Linked DNA regions of Homo sapiens: region 1 is linked to region 2. A link means that fine-mapping ties the variant in region 2 to the expression of a gene that starts in the linked region. Tissue or cell type: fibroblasts. Region 2 holds a variant in brackets; the other region holds the start of a gene. All regions are shown on one strand. Distances are from middle to middle.

Evidence for each region. PIP is the estimated chance that this variant, and not a neighbour inherited with it, causes the effect.
Region 1: it holds the start of SMARCD2, and the variant in region 2 is fine-mapped to the expression of SMARCD2 in fibroblasts (GTEx, PIP 0.95).

What each region holds. Positions count from the first base shown.
Region 1 is chr17:63,838,512-63,845,720 of GRCh38, forward strand. SMARCD2 (SWI/SNF related BAF chromatin remodeling complex subunit D2) reads right to left here and starts at 4,174. Exons shown (of 13, transcript NM_001098426.2): 1 at 3,948-4,174. The coding sequence starts at 4,163. RefSeq lists enhancers at 778-1,072, 3,097-3,176, silencers at 778-1,072, 3,897-4,126, 4,497-4,666 and a cis regulatory region at 5,776-6,165.
Region 2 is chr17:64,060,136-64,067,344 of GRCh38, forward strand. ERN1 (endoplasmic reticulum to nucleus signaling 1) reads right to left here. Exons shown (of 22, transcript NM_001433.5): 8 at 6,536-6,797; 9 at 5,074-5,152; 10 at 3,851-4,016; 11 at 334-452. Among named protein-coding and RNA genes, the nearest start is that of ICAM2, 43 kb to the left of the region's middle. RefSeq lists enhancers at 2,879-2,948, 3,959-4,008. The variant T/C (reference allele first, on the strand shown) is at 2,897.

The DNA.
Region 1 (7,209 bases), 220 kb before region 2:
AGATTATCCTGGGAGGCAAGGATAGAGGCCCAGGCTGAGCAGCAGGAAAGTGGGAGACAGAAATAGCTTCTTTAGATGCCTGCAGAAGGATTTCCCACCTGAGGCCTTGCTCCCTGACATTTCTGTGGAGCCCATCTGGGAGTCACCTCCACCCCCACCCGCCTCCCCATGGCTGCTGCCTGCAAGGCCTGTTTGGCAGCTCTGCCTTGCACACACTGTCCCTGGCAGCTTCACAGGGCTGGCCCCAGGGCCCAGATTATGCAACGAGCACAACCAGCCAACCAAGCCCGGCAGGGTGGAGACTTGTACCAAATCAAAGGACCCTCCCCCACCCCAGCATCATGGAGATGAGATTCTTCCCCAACCTCTTCATCCCGCACTAAACCCATGTTCCCAACACAGAGGGTCAGATTCTTGACCAGATGCGGAGATGGAAAGAAACATGACCCACAGACGTGAGGATGGGGAGAGGAGGAGCAGGGTGGGACGGAAGTGTTTGGGAGAATAAAAAGTTCAAAGTGGGGGGCTCTGGGGCTTTGGGAGTCCTGCCAAAGTCTCTCTGCATCAGGAAGAGATTAATCAGAGCTGTTGAAAGGCAAAAGACAGCCTCTTTCTCTGCCTTAAAGATTGTTCTTTCTCTGGCCTGAGATTATAGAAAAAAACTAAGTGTGGCTACAGCTGTAAGCCCAGGCCCAGACATCCCAGACTAGTTTTTCCTAGTGCCTGAGACAAAGACAGGGAAGAACTGAAGCAGTGGGTCCTGCAGAGGTGAGCGAGGGCCCTGTGGTCCCCAGGAAGCTCCCTGCTGCAGTGTTCACAAAACCTGCAGCACCACCCATCCCTCCTGGGCAGGTGCTCCGGTAACAGGAAGTCCCAAGACAAGGCCTCATAGGCAGGGTCTGGAATAGGCTCCACCCAGACATCTGCTCCAGGTTTCCTGGGCCCAGAGCCCCTGGCTCACTCAGGGCCCCAGGGGAAGGCTGCTTATAGTTCAAGTCCCAGCTGAGCCTTGCCAAGCTCCATAGGGCTTATAGGCGCTAGCAACTCCTCCCACTTCAAAAAACAAAACAAAACAAAACAAACAAAAAAAAACAACTCAGGAGTTAAAGAAAAAAAAAAAAGCAGTCCAGCACTCTGAGCCTCCCTAACTCCCTGCCTGCAGCAGGACCAGGTAGGCCTGGATCAATCCCCTGAACCCCAGATGAGGAATCCAGGGCTCCGGTGAGCGTGCTTTGCCCTGCCCCAAATGTGGCCCTGATGCTCCTGGAACCTGGGCCTGAGGGCCTCAGTTGGGGAACATACCACCCACTCTCCCATGAGTAAAAAGGATTTTGAGGCCGGGTGCAGTGGCTCACGCCTATAATCCCAGCACTTTGGGAGGCCGAGGCGGGTGGATCACAAGGTCAGGAGTTCGAGACCATCCTGGCCAAGATGGTGAAACCTCGTCTCTACTAAAAATACAAAAAAATTAGCCGGGCGTGGTGGTGGGCGCCTGTAATCCCAGCTACTCAGGAGGCTTGAGGCAGAGGATTGTTTGAACCTGGGAGGCGGAGGTTGCAGTGAGCTGAGATCATGTCACTGCACTCCAGCCTGGGCGACAGAGTGAGACTCCGTATCAGAAAAAAAAAAATTTTTTTTTTGAACTTTTTGAACTCTCTGGAGTGAACCCAGCAATCTGAGGTTTTTGTTATTTTGTTGCCCAGGCTGGAGTGCAGTGGCAGGATCATAGCTCAATGCAGCCTTGAACTCCTGGACTCAAGCAATCCTCCTGCCACAGCATCCTGAGTAGCTGGGACCATAAGCGCACACCACCATGCTTGGCTAAATTTTTTTTTTTTTTTTTAAGAGATGATGGTCTCACTATGTTGCTTAGGCTGGTCTTGAACTCCTGGTCTCAAGTAATCCTTCTGTCTGGGCCTCCCAAAGTGCTAGGATTACAGGTGTGAGCCCACCATATCCTGCCCTGGAGGTTTTTTTCTTTTCTTTTTCTTTTTTTAGGTTCCTCTGTTAACTGTGATCCACAGCTAGAACCACCCTCTGGAGGAAGGGAGGTCATCACTTCCCTTCTTTCAACTATTTGCTCAGCTTGGGCCTCAAATTCTCACTTTTCAAGTGCATCTCATGAGCCCTAACAGACAGGAACCCCTTTGTTTCCCAGATCTCAAGTCCCTTCTCCTGGCAGTCATACAACTGGACTTGGAAAGAAGGCAAATAGGATCCTCTTCAAACTCAGCCAAAGTTAGCTGGCTGGGTTCTCCTTCCCATCTACCTCTCCTGCCAGGAGGAGGAAAGCTAGTGGGATGGGAAACCCAGACTCAGGGCCATCTCCTACTTCCGCACAGCTAGCAGCCCAGGCCTAACCAGCCAGCCAGCTTGGCCTTGCCACAGGCCCAAGGCCACCCCCCACCAAAACATGTGGAATCCATCCTCTCAGGGGCTGTCCCAAGGGCACATTTCCTATGGCTTGCATGCCAAGGAAACTGGAGCGGCTTGTCTGTTCCAGGTCCTTCCAAGGCCAAAGGCCCACAGATGGTGCCCAGGCCAGGTCTCAGTGGGCAGGCCCAAGGGCTACAATGAATGATGCAGGGAGCCCTCAGCAACACCCTGGGCCCATGAATCCCCAACGGGGACAGCAAGGTGGGAGAGATGAGCCCCAGCTGGAATCCCTGGGACCAGGTCTGTCTCTGCCCATACCCAGACTCTCTTTTCTCTTGAGAAAGGAGGAAGAATGAGGAGTAAGAAGGAAAAAAAAATCCAGTCACTGTCCCTAGTTAAGCCATCTCCTTAGAAGTGAGGGCCCAGTGGGGCAGGTAGGCTGTGTATACTCCACGAGGATCCCTAAGGACCTCTGCCTGGAGACATGAGTCGAAAACAGAGGAAGCCCACAGCAAACCCGTAGATGAGCAAGAAGCCAGTGTCAAATGCTTGGGCACATGGCTTCGGACGTGGTGGAGTTAGAACCTGAAGGCCAAATAAAAATGCAGAGAGGGTGACAAGGCAGATGGGCACAGTTTCCAAGCCCTCTGGGGCAACCTGAACAGCAGACTAGAGCACTGGCAGGGTCAGGCTGAGGTCCTCACACACTGAGCAGAAGTCGCTGCTTTGCAAGGGCTTTTGAAGCTGCAATCTGAGCAGCTCTCAAAACCCCAAAGGGGTCAGGACAGCACTCTTTGAAGCAACTCTCGCAGACTCCTCCGGCCCCAGACCAGCAGGGCTCCACTCTGCACGTCCAGACTAATCAACTCCCGGACACGATGACAGGAGGCAGAAAGCCCAGAAGAGAGCCGGCCTGTGACTGGGCTGGGCCTCCCCTCAGGCCAGGCCACCACCGTCTCTGGTCTAAGCTGGAGTCCTCCCAGCGAAGGCGCCTGGCCCTGCCTCAGGAGTAAAGTCCGCCCGTGCACAAGCTGGAATCCCCTGGCCCTAGCCTCAGCGTCCCGTGCCCGTGGGAAGCCAGGCTCCTTCCTCCTTATTAGCAGCCGGGAGCCATCTCAGACACGCTAGAGCTCCGCCAGTTCCCAATCAGAAAAAACAGGGCAGACTTGGACTGGGACCAAGGCCGATGCAGGGTAACCCCGGTTTCTCAGCGAGGGCCCTTTCCCAAACTTTCTCATCACTTTCCAGCCCTCCTACCCTAGACTTCTCAACCCACCCGCCACAATTCACTGGCTCCCCAAACTCCTCCATCTCCCAGTCACTCGGAATCCCTGTGCCGCGGAAGCCCCCAGGCCTCCCAGCTGCTTCCAGCCCTCCGCTGCAGAACCTGCTTCCCCTTCCCACTTCTCCACCGCGACCCGCCGCAGCCCGAGGGTCCCGGCCCGCCCTCCACCGTCTCCCGGAGTTCCTCATGCATTCCCCAGGGCCCTCACTCGAGGCCCCTTCAGCCGCCGGCCCGGGCGCCCTCGCAGCGCCTCTCGCCCCCGTCCGCTCGCGTCCTCCTTGCTCACCTGGTACTGCGCCGCGGGGCCCGCGGGGCCCATGGGGCGGAAGGCGGCGGCCCCGGGGCCCCCCACGCCTCCTGCCGGACCCGGTCCCCGGAGCGCCGGTCCGGGCAGCATGCCGGGTCCCGCGGGGGGAGGCGGCGCTCCCAGGGCCGCAGCCACGGCGCCGCCGCCAGGGCTTAGCGGGGGCAGCGGGAACCCGCCCGCGCCTCGGCCCGACATCGCTCCGTCCCGTCCCGCGGTGCCGCGATCCGGACTCCGGGCTCCGCGTCGAGTCCACTCCGTGCTCTGTGCTCCGCGATCCGGGACTTGGCGATCTTAATTCCGGGTTCCGGGATTTGTCGATCCGGGCTCCGGGATTTCCTAATCCAAGTTCGCGAGTTCCTCACAGACCCGGTTCGGGACAGATTCCGCTCCTGCCCGGGAGATTCCGGATCCAGGATCTGCTGCGGGCCCGCCTTCCGTCCCCGGCCTCCGGAGGTTTGGCCGCCCGAGTCGAGTTACCCAGAGGCGGCTACGAACTCCCTGCCCCGCCCAACCCAGCCCAGCACTAGGCCCCGCCTCTACCTGGTGCCCAATGCTCGAGTGCCTCCTCGAATCCTGCCCCTCGCGAGACCCGCCCCCAGCGGGCACCGCCCCTAACTGCCGACCTCAGAGCCCCACCCCCCCACCTTTGGCCCAGCCTTTCGTCGGAGGGGCGGGAGCGGAAGCTGCGCGCGGAAGCGCCGAGTGAGGCGCGGGGTCAGAGGTCTAAGGTCACTTAGGGGCTTCACAGTGAATGAGCCGTTGCTACTACTCTCTCCCGGTATAGCACCCTCACCGAATTCCGCGGCCACACTCCCCGAAAATAGTTTTGTCAAGTCTCCTTTCTGCATCTTCGGCGTTAAAGACTCAACTCAGAGTCGGTAGCTGTGGCTCACGCCTGTAATCCCAGCGCTTTGGGAGGCTGAGGCGGGCGGATCCCCTGAGGTCAGAAGTTCGAGACCAGCCTGGCCAACATGGTGAAAACCCCGTCTCTACTAAAAATACAAAAATTAGCCGAGTGTGGTGACGGGCGCCTGTAATCCAAGCTACTCGGCAGGCTGAGGCAGGAGAATCGCTTGAACCTTGGAGGCAGAGGTTGCAATGAGCCGAGATCGCCCCACTGCACTCCAGCCTGGGCGGCAAGAGTGAAACTCATCAAAAAAAAAAAAAAAAAAAAAAAAGACTCAGCTGCTCTGTGGGGCAGAACAGCAGCCAACTCAACTTCCTGTAAAAGCTCATGCTGGTAGCTCGGAACTGCCAAGGGACCTAGGAGGCTCCAGACTTGACCCAGCTGGTGAACGGTCGACTTGGCCAAGGCTGAGTTCTACCGCACATTTTTAACGTGGCTCCGCCTCACTTTAAGGAAGCCTGGTACTTTACTCCCCAGAAAATGCTTCTAGTCAAAAGAAATTTGGCTTATGAGAAACCTCCCCGCAGTTTAAAAAAAGAGGTCTTTCTCCAGTATTTATAGCACTTAATTTTCAAAAATGCAGTATCTTTTCAGGTACACTGTGCTGTATCAAAGTATTCAAAAATGCGTCAGCTGTGCCAGGGAGCCTACCCTCTGATGGTCTGGATCTCCTCGCCGTGATATGGACCAGTGCTGCTTAAACTTTAATGAGCACATAAAAAACACTCGAGGCTCTTATTAAAAATGCAGATTGTGGCAGGGCCCAGGACTCTGCATTTGTAACAAGCTGCCAGCGATGCTGTTGCTTCTCAGACCACACTGTCAAGAAGCCGGGATCTAGACTTTTTTTTTTTTTTAGTTTTTTTACTATAATTGCTTTATTTTTCCAGCCCCAACCAAGTAATACTTCCTTCCTTGCATCATAGCACCCCAGATCTTTTTTACAGTATAGTTCTCCAGTGCTTTTTAGAAATTAGTTCTCCTCATGCCTCTAGTGATAAACACCGCTGCTGCTGTTTTCTTACCTCCTGAACTTAGAGATCCCACTCTATTGCCCCAAGAGTCGATAACCTGTCAGTCTGGGGACTGGCCACTGGAATTGTTAAAGTCACTGAATCATGGCCCCTCCCATCCCTGTAAAGTGGGTTAAGAGTTCATGATAAGGCAGCTAATATCCATTTCAATCCTTTTAAGCTTCTAGAACAACAGTAATTCTCAAAGTGATAGGGGCAGTGGAGAATCAGAGTCCTCTGGGAAGCTACTCCAAAATACCTCCGCCAGCCACCCCTCCAATCCAATGGCTCTCAGTATTGTATTTGAAAAATAAGCTTCCTAGGTAATTCTGATGCGACCCAGTGGGTCGCATCAGAAAACACAAGATTTTTTCTACCCTAGAAAAGGGGCAAGCTAATAAGTGCATTTAAAAGCAGATCAGCTGGGTGGAGTGGCTCACACCTGTAATCCCAGCACTTTGGGAGGCCAAGGTGAGTGGATCACTTGAAGTCAGGAGTTCGAGACCAGTCTGGCCAAGATGGTGAAACCATGTCTCTACTAAAAATATAAAAATTAGCTGGGCGTGGTGGTGCACACCTGTAATCCCAGCTACTCAGGAGGCTGAGGCACGAGAATTGCTTGAACCCAAGAGGCAGTGGTTGCAGTGAGCAGAGATCGTGCCACTGCACTCCAGCCTGGGTGACAGAGTAAGACACTGTCTCAATAATAATAAAGCAGATCAAACGGTTAAATATAACTCAGTTCCTGTCAATCCCTTGTTTAAAACCCTCCCCAGCTCCCCATTGCTCTTAGATTGAATGTCACACTCCCTCCTGTGACATTTAAGGCTCTGCAGGACCTGGTCCCTGCTTACCTCCTTGGGTTCATTTTAAATCACTGCCTTTGGCTCTCCAAGCATTGGCCCAGATGGTCTCCTTGCAGTTTTTCAAACTACCCATCCCCTTCCCATCTCAGAGCCTCTCTGTTCTCTCACACCCTACTTCCCACCAAGTGATTATCACAGTACATCATTACTTAAGTGTGTGCTGATTTACTGTCTGATGTGGCTCACCCACTAAAATATAAACTCTACGAAGGCAGGATCTTTTTCTCTCTCAATTTATCTTTTTATTTTAAAATTTGTATTTTTTTAAGACAGTGATTTGCTAGGTTGCCCAGGCTGGCCTCAAACCCCTGGGCTCAAGTGATAGTTCCTGAATAGCTGAGTAGGTATACACCACACCTGGCTATTTTTTTAAATTGAAGTGAGATTTACGTAATAAAATTAACTGTTTGAAATTGCACAATTCAGTGGTATATATTACATTCACAATGTTGTGC
Region 2 (7,209 bases):
GGCACACCAGCATTCTTCCCACTCCAGGCTTTTGCCCTTGCTGTTCCATTCCCTCCTGTGCCCTCTTGCTCCCTCCACCTGGCCAAATCCTACCCATTCATCCAGGTCCAGGCCTAGCTTGGTCCTGCTGCCTTTCCTGCACCTTCTTTCACAAGTTGCTTCCTATTCCTCTCCACTAGCCCTTAACCATTTATGTTTTTTGCTTTGGATTCTGGTGCATTCCTCTTCCCTCCCAGACTAGGCTGCAAGCTCAGAAGGCAGAGTCAAAGTCTAATGCCTCACCCTCCCAACACCTAACACCAACAACCCCCGACTGGTCGCTTCCTCACTCACTTCCTCAAAGCTCTTTTTCTCTGAATCAGCAGGAATCACATTTTCCCGATGTTTGGGTAGATTGTTGGGAAATCTCTCCAGCATCTTGGTAGACGCAGACAGTGGGGTTTCATGGTGTCCTATGACAGGAAACAAAACCTTTAGTGAGAACAATTTCCCGAGCTGTGGTGGCACTCAATGCTAAACTTAGGCAACAGGTGCTACCCACTGAGGGGTCCACAATGCAAACTCTCAGCAGGACTGTGAGTTAGAGAAAATGAGTGGCAGTTACCAGAAAATTCCATCAAAGCAGGACCCTTATTACTTCATGGCAGAATACAGTATTCCAAGTCTCCTACTGAGGAGTGAAGAAGTATCCTTGCATGACAGGGATCAGGACATTTGGGAGGCACCAGACGCAAGGCTCGTGGGGCTGCATGGGCCCGATCCACAGGTGAAGTATGATGAGGCTTCATTAAAAGTTCAAGGAGTTCTCCTTTCAATGCTTTTTCCTGTAACATCACTCTTCTATGGCCGCCGAATTCCCATCTTGGTATTTAAATTGCTCAGGTGGAGTTCCAGTCCTACTATTATCTAAATGTGAGCTTCCATCGGGGAAAGTGGTACATTACTTGCGAGAAAGCAGTAGGACACACCTGCTAGATGGATGGGGCCATAGCTTGCTCCACGTTCATTTGCTGTTCACTACACAACTATCGCATGGCTACTGAGCATTCATTACACATTTATTGAGCATCTATTGTGTGCAAATTGCTGTAAGAGATACAAAGCTGACTAGAATAGGGAACTGGGATTTGATAGGGCTTGATAATCCATTCAGCTCTAAAAATGAGTCCACATACTGCCCCAAAGAGCCAGGTCACTGTTTCAGATTAGGCTGCCAGTAGCCTGGCTGACTTTCCTTTCTGTTCTCTGGCTATGAGCAGATCTCACTCTGACTCACGTCTCTTTCACCTTATGATCTTTCCATTGTTCCCCTAAACCTATCAAAGATTTCATGACATACATGCCAAGATGACAACAAACAGGAACTAGTCTAAGCTGTGTACATTTCTTGATCTGGAAAATTCCTCTTTGAGTTCCCATCTTTAGGTCAGTTCTCTATCTACAACATAATATCATTCTTTAAGGGAAACCTACTTTTGTTTTGAGCCACCACTAGTTTCTCTTGTGTACCAAGGAGCTCTGAGACATGCTTTGCTTGGGAGCAGGATTTCTCCACTTGTGGTCTGCCCACTTCAGACCACTGAATCAGACTTGCTGGTAGGGCCCAGGAATCCGAATGTGAGTATGTGCGGGTAACTCTGAGGCTCACTAACAAGAGACCTACGGTCTAAGAAAAGTGAGGTGTTCTTCCACATGCCACGCTGTGCAGCAGTGTCCTGCCCTTCCCACAACACCCACTCAGTGCTCAGGGTCCTACCTGTCTGGTAGGACACCTGCCAAGAGACTGCTATGGAAGGCATTAGCCTGAATCCCCCTAGTTCTTCTGTCAACCTTCTTGTAAACAGGCTTCTCCTGGAGCTGGGCCTTCACTGATATCACGCTGTACACACTGGACCAACCACTGTACAACCTTACTCATGAGACCACTAAATATTTTGTACAAATATTACCTGGTCTCCTTGATGTATTCATCTATCATTATCTCTTAGGTCCAGATTCCAGAGCAAAAAGCAGATGGCTAGGCCCTGCCCCAGACCTACTGAATCAGGCTCTCCCGGGCTTATATATGCCTAGTTAACTAAGCTCTGATGCCGAAAGCACCCAAGGTCAGGGCCATGGCTTTGGGGCAACCCACAGACCATGCCTCTCAAGCTAATTGGATCCTTGTATTTTCACGATTAATGACAACCTGGAATATCTTTAATGCTTTCCACAAAGAGAAAATGAAAGGACATATCTGGACATAGTAGGGCATATCCTTTTACTTGTGGCCCTCGTCAACAGGAGACACTGCCATAGTCTCAGTGCCATATTTTAAGATGACGAGCTTTGGAGGTCCTCAGAAGAGGCTTTCGAATTGTGGGATCCTTACACTTAATAGATTCCTTATACTTTGCTGTTTTCGCAGTTTCCTTACTTGGACAACCTTTCCATTTTAAAGGGATCTCATTTTACAAGTTAACCATGAAGACTCCCTGCCCCCATATTTTCTGTATTCTCATATATACACATTTCCTTAATTCCACTTCTTAATCACTGGTGGGCAGTCTGTGAGCCCCTTAACTGGCACATAATGCTGAGCAGCCTTGTAATTGCAATGACCTCTTCTCATTAGCTATTTTTTTCTCACCATGGGCCTATTCATACATGCTCCTCCAACTACTTCTGTTAATAAAAACGTATTATTATTTTGTCATCTCCTTTACCCGTTATTTGGTAAAAATAAAATAAAAATGGCTACAAGGAAACAGGATGAAAAAAGAAATGGACCTTGACAATCTATAAAGGAAGCGAGCAGGGCTCAAGGATACCTGGTTTCCCCCCATAATACCTGGTTACACACATCCCCACCTACACCGCACTGCCTGGCAGATCCTGCTGTTTCCTGGTCCCCACA[T/C]GCTCCCAGCTGCCCCACATCTCTTTTCCAGAGCCCCAGCCCTGACCTCTTTCTCCCCTAGTACCTGTCACCAGCAAGCACGACAGGAAGAGAACAGAGAGAAGAAACTGCACCGGCCCCTGGGTGCTCCAGCACCCGACTGACCTCCTGCCCTGCTCTGCCCCTACTGGGGCTGGGAGGTGGCAGAACAGTGAGGGATGGGGCACAGGAAGGGCAGATGGGGTTCAAGAAAACTCCCTCCTGCTCTAATGACTTGGCACACTTGCCAGGAACACAGCTCTTCTCACTTCCGCCTTCGTTTGTCACACTCACTGCCAACTCAAGAAGTGTCATCTCAACTTATCTCTCTTGGGACAGGGCCTCTAGTTCAATCCCTGGCCATTAGTGATGGCAGCAAAAACAAGAGAAAGAGGAAAAAAGGGACCTTCCCACACACCTGGGATGACACTGCCCTAGAACCACAACCAGCCCCTGACTCTGCTGCTCTCAATCCATCCTGGGATTTAATCCCTCCCGGGTCCTCAGCCCTCGCCTCTCCAACCCCTCACCCTCATGCCCACGTGGACTCCAAGTTAATTCTTCCATAGAAACAGTCTCAGTTTTCTTAACTATAAAATGGAAATGACAAGGGTACCTACCTCACACAGGGTTGCTGTGAGGAGTGAGGAAATGCATTCTAAAGGGCTTAATGTCGGATACTCACACAAGGTTTACATTAATTTAGTACCTGAGTTTTGGAACATTAAACAGTTTTCAAAAACTGACTCAGAAACACAGCTACCTTGTTGATTTTCCTTGGGGGTAAAAATGTCCCAAGGTCTCAGGGGCCAGCCGGGAAGGGCTCTGAGCACAAGGCCTTCCGAGCTCAGTACGGTGTAACTACCAGGGCCGGCGGTCGCCCACCAGGAGGCAGCACGCTGTCACCTCAGGCTACTGTGGGAGACCTGCTCTTACCTATCAGAAGCCAGTAATTCCTCAAGTAGTTGAGCTTGTTCTTGCTTTTGAGTCCGGGATCAAACTTGACGTCCGTGCTGGGCGTGATCACACACTCCCCCTTGTCCCCAATGGTGACGCCATCAGTCTGGGGCCCTTCCAGCAAAGGAAGTGTGCTGCCGCGGGGCTGTGGAGAGGGTGCAGTGAGGGTCAGGAGCCCTGGAGGGAGAGCGGGTCCCACGGCACACCATCCCAGCCACTGTCCTGAAAGGTGAGCAATTTCTAGTGCAGGGCTAGTCCAGGACAGAGCAAGACACAAAGGCCCAAAGTCTGGGCAAAGAAGCTTCTCCCTCAGGATGTGACAAGCTGCACTGATGTCTTTATGGACGTCTTTTTAGATTCTTATGTCTGGGTACTGGGGAACAAGAAGTGTGTGTGTAGAACTCCAAGAAGCTATTATGAGAAGCAGACATAAGTGAAGGAGAATGAATGGATATCTCTGTTAGTCACAATCTACGCAACCAATGGGGCGGAATAAAGTCCAGCCACACGCCCAGTGCTGGCTCAGGTGCTGCTGGAACTATGACAGAGGCAGGCGCTGTCTATTCACAGAAGCAGCCGCCCAAATCACTGGGAAGACAAGAGAGCCAACCACACAGCCCAAGCATTGTAGGGATCAGGACAAACAGCTAGGATTATGACGCCTTGGACTTTCAGAGACAGAATGCTTGAGGCAGGCTTGTGAGGCCCAAGGAGGCTCGGCGAGATTGCAAAAGCATGCAAAGGGTTTGAGTAGGGAAAAGGAAGAAGAAAGGGCATTTGAAGTGTGAGGTGAGGAGCAGCCTGAACAAAGGCCCCGGGGAAAGATGAACATGGGGCTTGTAGAAGTCAGGGAGAAGGTGCACATGGTTGGGCCACGCAACTCACATAGAGAAACTAACAGGGTGGAGGAAGGGCATCGTGGGACTGGATGAAGCAGGGCCATGAACACCAGCCTGGGGAGTTTAGATTTGATCACAAAAGCAAAAGGGAATAATCAGGGATTCCTCGGCTTTAAGAAGCTGTTTTTGTCATGTATCTTTCTTTCAAAGTAGAATGTGGCATGTGCAGAAACTGTTTTTGAGAACTTAAGATTTGTGTTTTTCATTCTTAACCTGCAGGATGCTCATGCATAGCAAAGTCATTCTTTGCTAAAATGGAACAGAAGTGGTTAGGCAGCTGCGAGCCCTCCGTAGTGGACTTACCACGACAGCAACCCCCTCGTGTACCATTGAGGGAGAGGCATAGAGGCTGGTAGAGTATTTCCCAACATACAGAGTGGGCCTAGGAGAAAAACAGATACATGCATTCCAGAGTCATTGAATTTCCAGATCCCACAGAAGGGAGTAATCATCACCCCAAATACCACCCGCAGGGATGACCACATTAACCCCCCAGACATGGAGGAACGCAGTAGGGGTGTGAAGCTAGGGGCACTGCCCTGGGAACAGGACCACAGGACTTCATCCCAGCTGTCACTCACTGCAGAAACATGGACAAGCCACCTAATGGCAAGCCTCAGCAAAATCGCAGGGCTGGACTAGACGATGCCCATGATGCCTGCAGAAAGGACTACGCCCAGTGGCCACAGAGGAGACTGAGTGCTTACTACCACCGCCGAGGCCCCTCAGATGACTCTCTACAACACACTTTCACTCCAGCGATCACTCCAGCGACCACCAGAACTACCCCCATTCTGCCTTGTGCTTTCTAAGGATCCTGGAGGTTTTACAGAACTCCTGAGAAATGGTCAGCTGCTCTACTCTGGATGCTGAGAGCAAAAGGGATGCATAAGAAATTCCAGACTTGGTGAGACTTCTGGTTCCCCAGCTGTGTAGTCTGTCCCCATGTGGGACATCAGGGAGACAGAAAATGGTGAGAGCTACACCTCCTGGCCCTTCTGCTTACTGTCAAGAGCCCACCTGGGATCGGTCATCCACTACATTATCTAAACCTCTCTCAACGAATACCTTACATTTGAATGCTGTTTTACAATCTAAACACTTGCCGGCATATTATCTTGTTTGATCTTCCACACAACTCTATATATAAAGTAGGAAACTGAGGCTTGGGGAGTTTAAGTGACTCGGTGATAGGCTATGAAGAGGGGGATGGAGAACAGAAGCCTGCTGAGTCTTGGACACACACACACACTGTAACTATTTTTTCTGATTTTTAAAATGAATATAACCTAAAAACTTAGAAAATATAGAAAGTTAAAAAAATAAATCTCTTGCATCCCTACCACCTAAGATAGATCCAAACTATACTTACACTGGCAGTCTCTTTCCTATACCTTTATTTGTGTGTGTGTGGTGGCAGGGGGAGGGTCTTGCCATGTTGCCCAGGTTGGCCTCAAACTCCTGTGCTCAAACAATCCTCCCACCTCAGCCTCTCAAGTAGCTGGAATTACAGGTGTATGCCATGGTGCCCGACACCTCCCATCCATGATTTTTATGTAATATTTAATAACTCTGAAGTGTTAATGGGTGCCCCTCAGCTCTTGTATTCTGAGGTTTCCAAATGAAACAGTCTTGGCTCTGAATATTCCTCATGGCTTCAGAGACTGCCCTGTCTTTGGCCTCCCGTGCAGGGCCTGCTACACTGCAACAGCACCAGAACACGAAGGCCACGGCCGCCCTCTCCTTCCCCGAGCTCCCAACTCACGTCAGCTTGCTCTTGGCCTCTGTCTCCTTGGGGAACGGGTACTTCCACTTTGTGATGCGCCCCACCTCCCCAGACATGAAGGTCAGATAGCGCAGGGTCTCCACAGCGACATTGATGTGCATCACCTTCCTCAGACCCTCCCGCTGCCAGACATAAAAGGCCACCACAGGGGAGGCGTAGTTTTGGATCCACAGGACGTCCCCAGATTCACTGTCCACAGTCACCACCAGCCCATCACCATTGGACACAAAGTGGGACATCTCTGTACAGATCAAATAAACAAAGCATGCTGAGTCTCACCCCATCTTGCAACCACATCCTCTACTCTTGTGGCAGGCTCTAGTCACTCAGTTAGAGGAAACAAGACTTCTGGAATATTCTCAGATCTCCTCTGAGCAATTTCACTTGTTTCCAATGAACTCGCTTAGTCTCTGTAATATCAAGACACTGAGAGCTGGCTGGCGTATAAACACAAGCCAGGATCACTCTCCCAAAGGCAATTTATTTGGTGATGTTCTTTAACACTCTATTCAATAAGTGAGAGTAAATACTGAGGAGGAAGGAGCCAGTGGAGATGCCTATTAATCTGGCATTTCATAGCAGTCACTTGAAACCCATCGATCAAACTGAAAGTCAGGGACAGCTGTGGTGGCTCATGTCTATAAGCCCAAGAA